2 linked regions of the Homo sapiens genome follow. The protein of the gene in region 2 interacts with the protein of the main gene of each other region in a pairwise test. Each region holds a gene or a part of one and is shown on either strand. Other genes may lie near its edges.

Evidence for each region.
Region 1: the proteins of SCAMP4 (region 2) and EBP interact in binary tests that used the Homo sapiens proteins (3 or more experiments, as listed by UniProt).

The regions. Positions count from the first base shown.
Region 1 is NC_000023.11:48,524,808-48,528,407, reverse strand, and holds part of EBP (3-beta-hydroxysteroid-Delta(8),Delta(7)-isomerase), read right to left. Parts: intron 1,420-3,600; coding exon 1,383-1,419; intron 1,254-1,382; coding exon 1,123-1,253; intron 175-1,122; coding exon 1-174. UniProt on the Homo sapiens protein: Isomerase that catalyzes the conversion of Delta(8)-sterols to their corresponding Delta(7)-isomers a catalytic step in the postlanosterol biosynthesis of cholesterol.
Region 2 is NC_000019.10:1,915,199-1,919,142, reverse strand, and holds part of SCAMP4 (secretory carrier-associated membrane protein 4), read right to left. Parts: intron 1,450-3,944; coding exon 1,321-1,449; intron 1,017-1,320; coding exon 860-1,016; intron 255-859; coding exon 153-254; intron 1-152. UniProt on the Homo sapiens protein: Probably involved in membrane protein trafficking.

The sequences.
Region 1 (3,600 bases), on a different chromosome or scaffold from region 2:
GGGCATGAGTGAGGTGCTTCACAGCATCAAGCACAAGGACTCCAGGCAGCACCAGCCACAGGGCATTCATGAAGACAAAGTAAAACCAGAAGTAGAGAGGGTGGCCCAGCTCTCCGTGCTGGAATCCGTCGCGGTGCTCTGTCAGGAAGTAGAGCACATCCCCATAGATCTGGCCTGTGGGTGGCAGGAGGGGAAGGAGAAGCCCCAGTGAGGAAGGGGACACTTTCGCCAATTCTCTATTCCAAAGCACTTTCCAAGTCATCATTCAAGGTCTCAGAGCTAAGTATTCTGAAATCACAGAGCTGAAAATCTGAGAAATCAGAAAAGTGAGATTCCAGACACCAGAGAGCTGAGAATTTCAGAACTCAGGAGAGCTCACACCTTCAGATTTAAGGAAGTTCAAAATCCTCAAATCCAAGACAGCTTAGGATTCTGGGACTAAAGATAACTCATATCGCTAGAACTAAAGAAAGCTAACAATTTAATAACACAAGATGACTGAGGCCGGGCACAGTGGCTCACACCTGTAATCCCAGTACTTCGGGAGGCCAAGCCAGGAGGACTGTTTGAGCTCAGGAGCTTGAGACCAGCCTGGGCAACATGGCGAAACCCCATCTCTACTAAAAATACAAAAGTTAGCCAGGCACGGTGGCACATGCCTGTAGTCCCAGCTACTCAGGAGACTGAGGCAGGAAGATCGCTTGAGTCTGGGAGGTGGAGGTTGCAGTGAGCCGAGATCACACCATAGCACTCTGGCCTGGGTGACAGAGCCAGACCCTGTTTTAAAAAAAATATGACAGAATCTTACATGAAGGGATCTCAGAGCCCTGATCCTGGAGGTTCCAGGGGCTTCTTGCCACCCTGGGCCACCTCATGTAACCTTCACAGGAGACTTTGTGATGGAGAAGGAGGAGGAGGAAGAAAAATGAACCCTCCCCACCTGAGAGTGCAGGCTCAGAGAAGGGCATGACCTTTCCAGAGCCTCAGGGGGTTTGTCATTCAGTCTGACTTACCCCTGGAAGGGCACCGTTGAGAGATCCCACCCACAGGGATACATCTGTGTCTGTGGATCCCCCATCAACCCCTCTAGTGCCCAGTGCCCCTCTAGTGCCCTTTCCTTACCCACAGAGACCACAAGCTGTAGAATGAAGCGGAGGGGATGCTGGCGGAGAAAGGCGATCACCACCCACAGGCTGAGTGGTCCCCACAGGCAAGCTGTGATGGTTTCCATGCACACTGTGAAGTTGTCACCCCTGCAGGAGAAAGCATGAGGGGACACTGGTATCGGTGTGCTCTTCCTACAGGTTAGCCCATTAGTGCTCCCCAACTCACCACCCCCCGAAAACCAATGCCAGTCTCCATTGACAGAGGCAAACACTTACAGGATGTATCGGCTGTCTCCCTTGGCATACTCTTTCCCTGAAGAAAAGAAGAGAGAGATATGAAGAATAAAGGCAGTGAAAGGAACACACACTTGTGAGAGCTGGGGGTCCCTGCAAGAAGACAGACTTCATAACCTTCCCATGCGTCTGCTTCCTCATCCGTGAAATGGGGTAACTGTTTGGATTCTAGTGGTTTATTTCTCTAAAACAAGGTAATATGTGTAAAGCCTGACACAAAACAGTGTGGCTGTGATTGGTACTCAAGAAGTGTGTGTGGTATAAAAGGAAGCAGGTGTAGATGATGGAGTGAGTGAAGTAGCCAATGAGAGAGAGAGAATGTAGGTGAACAGATGAGTGAATACAAGAGTGAGCAGAGAATCAGAAAGAAAAAGACCGCCGGGCACGATGGCTCATGCCTGTAATCCCAACACTTTGGGAGGCTGAGGTGGGATGATGGCTTGCATAAAGGAGTTCAAGACCAGTCTGAACAATATAGTGAGACCCCCAACTCTATAAAACATACAAAAATTAGCTGGACGTGGTGGCACGTGCCTACAGTCCCAGGCTGCAGTGGGAGGATGTCTTGAGCCCAGGAGGTTGAGGCTGCAGTGAGCTATGATAGCACCACAGTGCTCAGCCTGGACAACAGGGTAAGACCCTGTCTCAAAAAAAAAAAAAAAAAAGAAAGAAAGAAAAAGATCATCCAATATAAAATAGGCAGAAGACTTGAATAGGTTCTTCACAAAGAGGATTTCTAAATGGCCAATAAGTATATGAAAGATGTTCAAACTTCCATTAGTCACTAAGGAAAAGCAAATTAAAACCATAATGAGATATCACTCACATCTACTGGAATGACTAAAATTTAAGAAACATCTGACCAGCCGGGCACAATGGCTCATGCCTGTAATGTTTTTTTTTTTTTTTTTTTTTTTTGAGACGGAGCCTTGCTCTTATCGCTCAGGCTGGAGTGTGCAGTGGCGCAATCTCAGCTCACCACAACCTCCGCCTCCCAGGTCCCAGAGATTCTCCTGCCTCAGCCTCCTGAGTAGCTGGGATTACAGGCACCTGCCACCACGCCCAGCTAATTTTTAGACTTTTAGTAGAGACGGGGTTTCACTATGTTGGCCAGACTGGTCTCAAACTCCTGACCTCAGGTGATCTGCCCGCCTTCGCCTCACAAAGTGCTGGGATTACAGGCATGAGCCACTCTGCCCGGCCTTGTTTATAATGGCAGAAGATTGAGGGAAAATGCCCATCAATACTACACAAGTCAAGCAACTGTACAATGTCCATGCTTTGAAAGCTCTTTATGAAATCATGAGGAGTGACCTCATTAAAAAAAGCAGCTGGGTGCGGTGGCTCATGCTTGTAATCCTAGCACTTTGGGAGGCTGAGGTGGGCAGATCACTTGAAGCCAGGAGTTGGAGAACAGCCTGGGCAACAAAGCAAGACGCCATCTCTTAAAAAAAAAAGTTGTTAAAAAAAAAATAACTTGGTGGGGTGGCACATGCCTATAATCCCAGCTACTAGGGAGGCTGAGGCAGGAGGATTGCTTGATTGCCCAGGAGTTCAAGGTTGCAGTGAGCTATAATCATGCCACTGCACTCTAGCCTGGGTGACAGAGCGAGACCCCGTCTCAAAAAAGAAAATGGCTTCTTTGGTTTTCTTGTAAGGAAAGAAAGAAAAAGAGAAAAGATTAGAAGTATATATAGCATATTACCATTTGTGTAAAAAGGGAAAAGTGCAAATAATGATAATAATAGTGAACAGTTACATGGCAACCACTGTTTGCCAAACACTGTTCTAAGTATCTTACATATAGTTGGTTATTACTATTATCCTCCTTTTACAATTGAGCAAATTGAGACTTACGTGTGTAAATAAACTGAAAAGAAACATAAACAACTATCAACAGTGCCTAACAGCGTTTGGGGAAACTTAGTGGATAGAAAGCAGATTTTCACTGCAAATCTCTTTAAATGGTTTTTTGACCCACGTGAATATACATGCAACAAAAAAGTTAAATAAGGCTGGGCACGGTGGTGCGCACCTGTCATCCCAGAATTTTGGGAGGCTGAGGTGGAAGGATTGCTTGAGCCCAGGAGTTAAAGAACAGCCTGAGCAACATAGCAAGACCTTGTCTCTACAAAAAAGTGAAAATATTAGCCAGGCATAAAGGTGTGCACCTATAGTATAGTCCCAGCTACTGGGGAGG
Region 2 (3,944 bases):
GGGCGCTGCCAGGGTGAGCTCAGACCCCTCCCTAGGAGAGCGCGTACAATCCCGGACCAGCACGCTCCGGTGGCCGCCTGGCTTCCCAGCAGGCCCACAACCTGGCAGCTGAGCCACATCACAGCCACCACGCCCATCAGAGAGAGGCTTACCACGCGCCCCAGCCGGAGAAGCCAATCGCCTGGATGACGGTCAGGACAAACTGGGCTCCGAAGATGAAGAAAAACGCCATGAAATTAAAGGAGCTGTCGGCTCTGGGGAGGGACAGAAAACACGACGGTTACCACAGCCCTGGCTTCTCCCAGACGCGCCTAGAGAGGAACGGGCCAGTCAGAGATGGTGAGAGCGGAGGCTCTATTTTATTCCTTTTTTTTTTTTTTTGAGATGGAGTCTCACTCTGTCGCCCAGGCTGGAGAGCAGTGTCGAGATCTCGGCTCACTGCAACCTCTGCCTCCCGGGTTCAAGCGATTCTCTTGCCTCAGCCTCCTGAGTAGCTGGGATTATAGGCGCCCGCAACCACGCCTGGCTAATTTTTGTACCTATAGTAGAGACAGCGTTTCACCATGTTGGCCAGGCTGGTCTTGAACTCCTGACCTCAGGTGATCCGCCTGCCTCGGCCTCCCAAAGTGCTGGGATTATAGGCCTGAGCCACTGCACCCAGCCAAAATTACTAGAAAGCAAAACAAAACAGACAGTAGTTGGCTCTGGCTTGTGGGCCACAGTTTGCCACCCCCAGATGTGAACTGTCTTTCACACTGGGCAGAGAAAGGGACAGCTCCTCACAGCTGGGCTGGGACTGGGGTGCAGAGTGGGCCCTGGTTCCCTCTGGGTGCAGACGGCCCCCGGCAGCTCTGCTCACCGGAAGGCCTTGTAGACAGGCCGGAACCAGCACACGTAGCCGCAAGGCGTGAACAGGAGCAGCCACACGAAGGCCAGGCCGAAGTTGGTCCCCGAGCCTCCGCCGATCCACCAGGCCAGGCAGGCAATGAGGTTGACGCCGAGGGTGGCGCAGTAAACTGCGAAGAGAGAGGGAGGACGGATGAGCAGGCACGGGAGGGTGTGGCCGTGGGAAAGCATGGGCCCAGCAATGGGGCACCCGCTGTCCGCCTCCCCAGCCCAGTGACCCCATGTCGAGGATGAACTGTGCAAGCCAAGACACTGGGGCCTGGACACCAGCCTCGTTCACCGCAGGGACCACCAGGCCCAGGACGGCTTCAGTAGACGGTGGGCCCCCGACGGGCTGCCCCTGCCTGAATGCCACTCCCTCCCTCGGGGAGCCCTGCCTCCCGCTTCCCGCCTCCTGCCCCCAGGCGCACTCACACATCCACAGCCGGTAGATCCTCTTCACCAGGACCTGGTGCTCCACTGGGATCTCGTCGGAGAAGTTCTGGTAGAAGCAGGGCTTCACAGGGATGAACTTGGGCAGTGGCGGGAAGTTGTTCTCCTTTTCTGTAGGGACAGAGAACCCACGGACAGAACCAGACTTTGTCTCTTGAAGGAGGCCCCACCTCATCCCTTCGACCCAAGGCTGGGTTGCCTCTCATGGCAGAAGGGACTCTGCAGTTGGGATTGAGGGCAGGACGCTGAGACAGGAGAGGGTCCTCGTGGCAGCCTCACGAGAGGAGACGGGAGGGTGGGAGTCAGAGAGAAACGGGAAGAGGCTGCGCTGAGGCTGTGAAGGGGGAGAAAGGGGCCCTGAGTGGAGGGATGGGGGCGCCTCTAGACGCTGGGCAAGGCGGGAACCGGCCTACAGCTTGATGTTAGCGTTTCTGGTCTCCAGAACTGTCAGATAACTGATTTCACTGTTTTAAGGAACTAAGTTTATGACTCTTTTTTTGAGACGGAGTCTCGCGCTGTCTCCCAGGCTAGAGGGCAGTGGTGCGATCTCGGCTCACTGCAGCCTCTGCCTCCCAAGCTCAAGTGATTCTTCTGCCTCAGCCTCCCAAGTAGCTGGGATTACAGGCGCCCACCACCACACCCGGCTAATTTTTGGATTTTTCTTTTTAGTAGACACGAGGTTTCACCATGTTGGCCAGGCTGGTTTTGAACTCCTGACCTCAAATAATCCGCCCACCTCTGCCTCCCAAAGTGCTGGGATAACAGGCGTGAGCCACCGCGCCCGGCCGAAATTGTTTTTTAAATTTACGTGTCACCCTTCATGCAGGGCCCTGCTACTCTTCGTAGCCCTCCTCCATGTTTAGTGTGGGTGCGGCTGCAGCAGGCTGCATTTAGTATCATTCCCTCCGGCAGGCAGGGACGCCAACATGCAGGCTCAGCAGGCCGAGTCCGCACACTGCGGGGAGGCTGTGGCCTGGGGACGCTTCCGTTCCCCATGGCTGCTGTGAGAAACCACCACCGACTGGGAGGCTTAGAACAACAGAAACTGCCCAGGTGTGGGGGCTCCCACCTGTGATCTCAGCACTTTTGGAGGCTGAGGCAGGAGGGCTGCTGGAGCCCAGGAGTTCCAGATCAGCCTGGCAACCTAGCGAGACCCCAACTCTACAAAAACTACAAAAATTAGCCAAGCGTGGTGGTGCGTGCCTGTGGTCCCAGCTTCTCGGGAGGCTGAGGCAGGAGGATCGCTTGAACCCAGGAAGTTAAAGCTGCAGTGAGCTATGATCACACCACTGCACTCCAGCCTGGGAGAGACCCAGACCCTGTCTCAAAACAAAACAAAGAACACAACAAATATTTATCTGCTAACAGTCCTGGAGGCCAGAAATCTGAGATCAAGGTGTCTCAGGAACGCGCTCCCTCTGCAGGCTCCGGGGAAGGAGCCTTCCTGCCTCTCTCAAGCAGCTTCTGGGGGATCCCAGCGCCCTTGGCTCATGGCCGCATAGCTCTGGCCTCTGCCTCCATCTCCACGACGACTCCTCCTGTATCTCCATGTCTTTTTTTTTTTTTTGAGATCCAGTCTCACTCTGTCACCCAGGCTGGAGTGCAGTGGCGTGATCTCGGCTCACCACAACTCCGCCTCCCAGGTTCAAGCGATTCTCCTGCCTCAGCCTCCCAAGTAGCTGGGACTACAGGTGCTGTGCCACCATGCCCAGCTAATATTTTTAGTAGGGATGGGGTTTCACTATGCTGTCCAGGCTGGTCTCAAACTCCTGACCTCATCATCTGCCCACCTCGGCCTCCCAAAAGTGCTGGGATTACAGGCGTGAGCCACCACGCCCGGACCATCTCTTTTTTTTTTTTCTGAGACAGTCTCGCTCTGTCACCCAGGCTGGAGTGCAGTGGCCCGATCTCGCTCACTGCAAGCTCCGCCTCCCGGGTTCACACCATTCTCCTGCCTCAGCCTCTCGAGTAGCTGGGACTACAGGCACCCGCCACCACGCCCAGCTAATTTTTTGTATTTTTAGTAGAGACGGGGTTTCACCGTGTTAGCCAGGATGGTCTCGATCTCCTGACCTCGTGATCCACCCGCCTCGGCCTCCCAAAGTGCTGGGATTACAGGCGTGAGCCACCGTGCCCGGCCTCCATCTCTTCTTATAAACACAGCAGGCACTGGGATGAGAGCTCGCCCTGCTCCAGTACTTTATCTTAACTCCATCACGTCCGGAGTTAAGGCCATATTCCCAAATGAGGTCCCACTCACAGGTTCCAGGGATCAAGATGGGAACACAGCCTTTGGGGCACTCAGCGTGGCACTGGGAGCCCCCCAGGAGCTTCTGCTCAGCCAGCACTGCCTGAGGAAGTGTCCCTGGGCGCCTGCGAGGGCCAGATGGGGAGTCAGACAGCAAGAGGCCCTGTCCTCAGGGGCTTACGCCCCACTGGGGAAGGCTGCCAGTAAATGAGTGGGTGAGGGACCCCGGGGCACATGAGAACACGCCCGCTGCTATAAGGAAAGAGCAGCTGTGATGGCAGGGGCACCCGGCTGGGCTGTGCTTCGGGTCAGTGAGGCGTCCGAGCGGATACACAGGCGGCTCTGCTGTCCTTTGCCC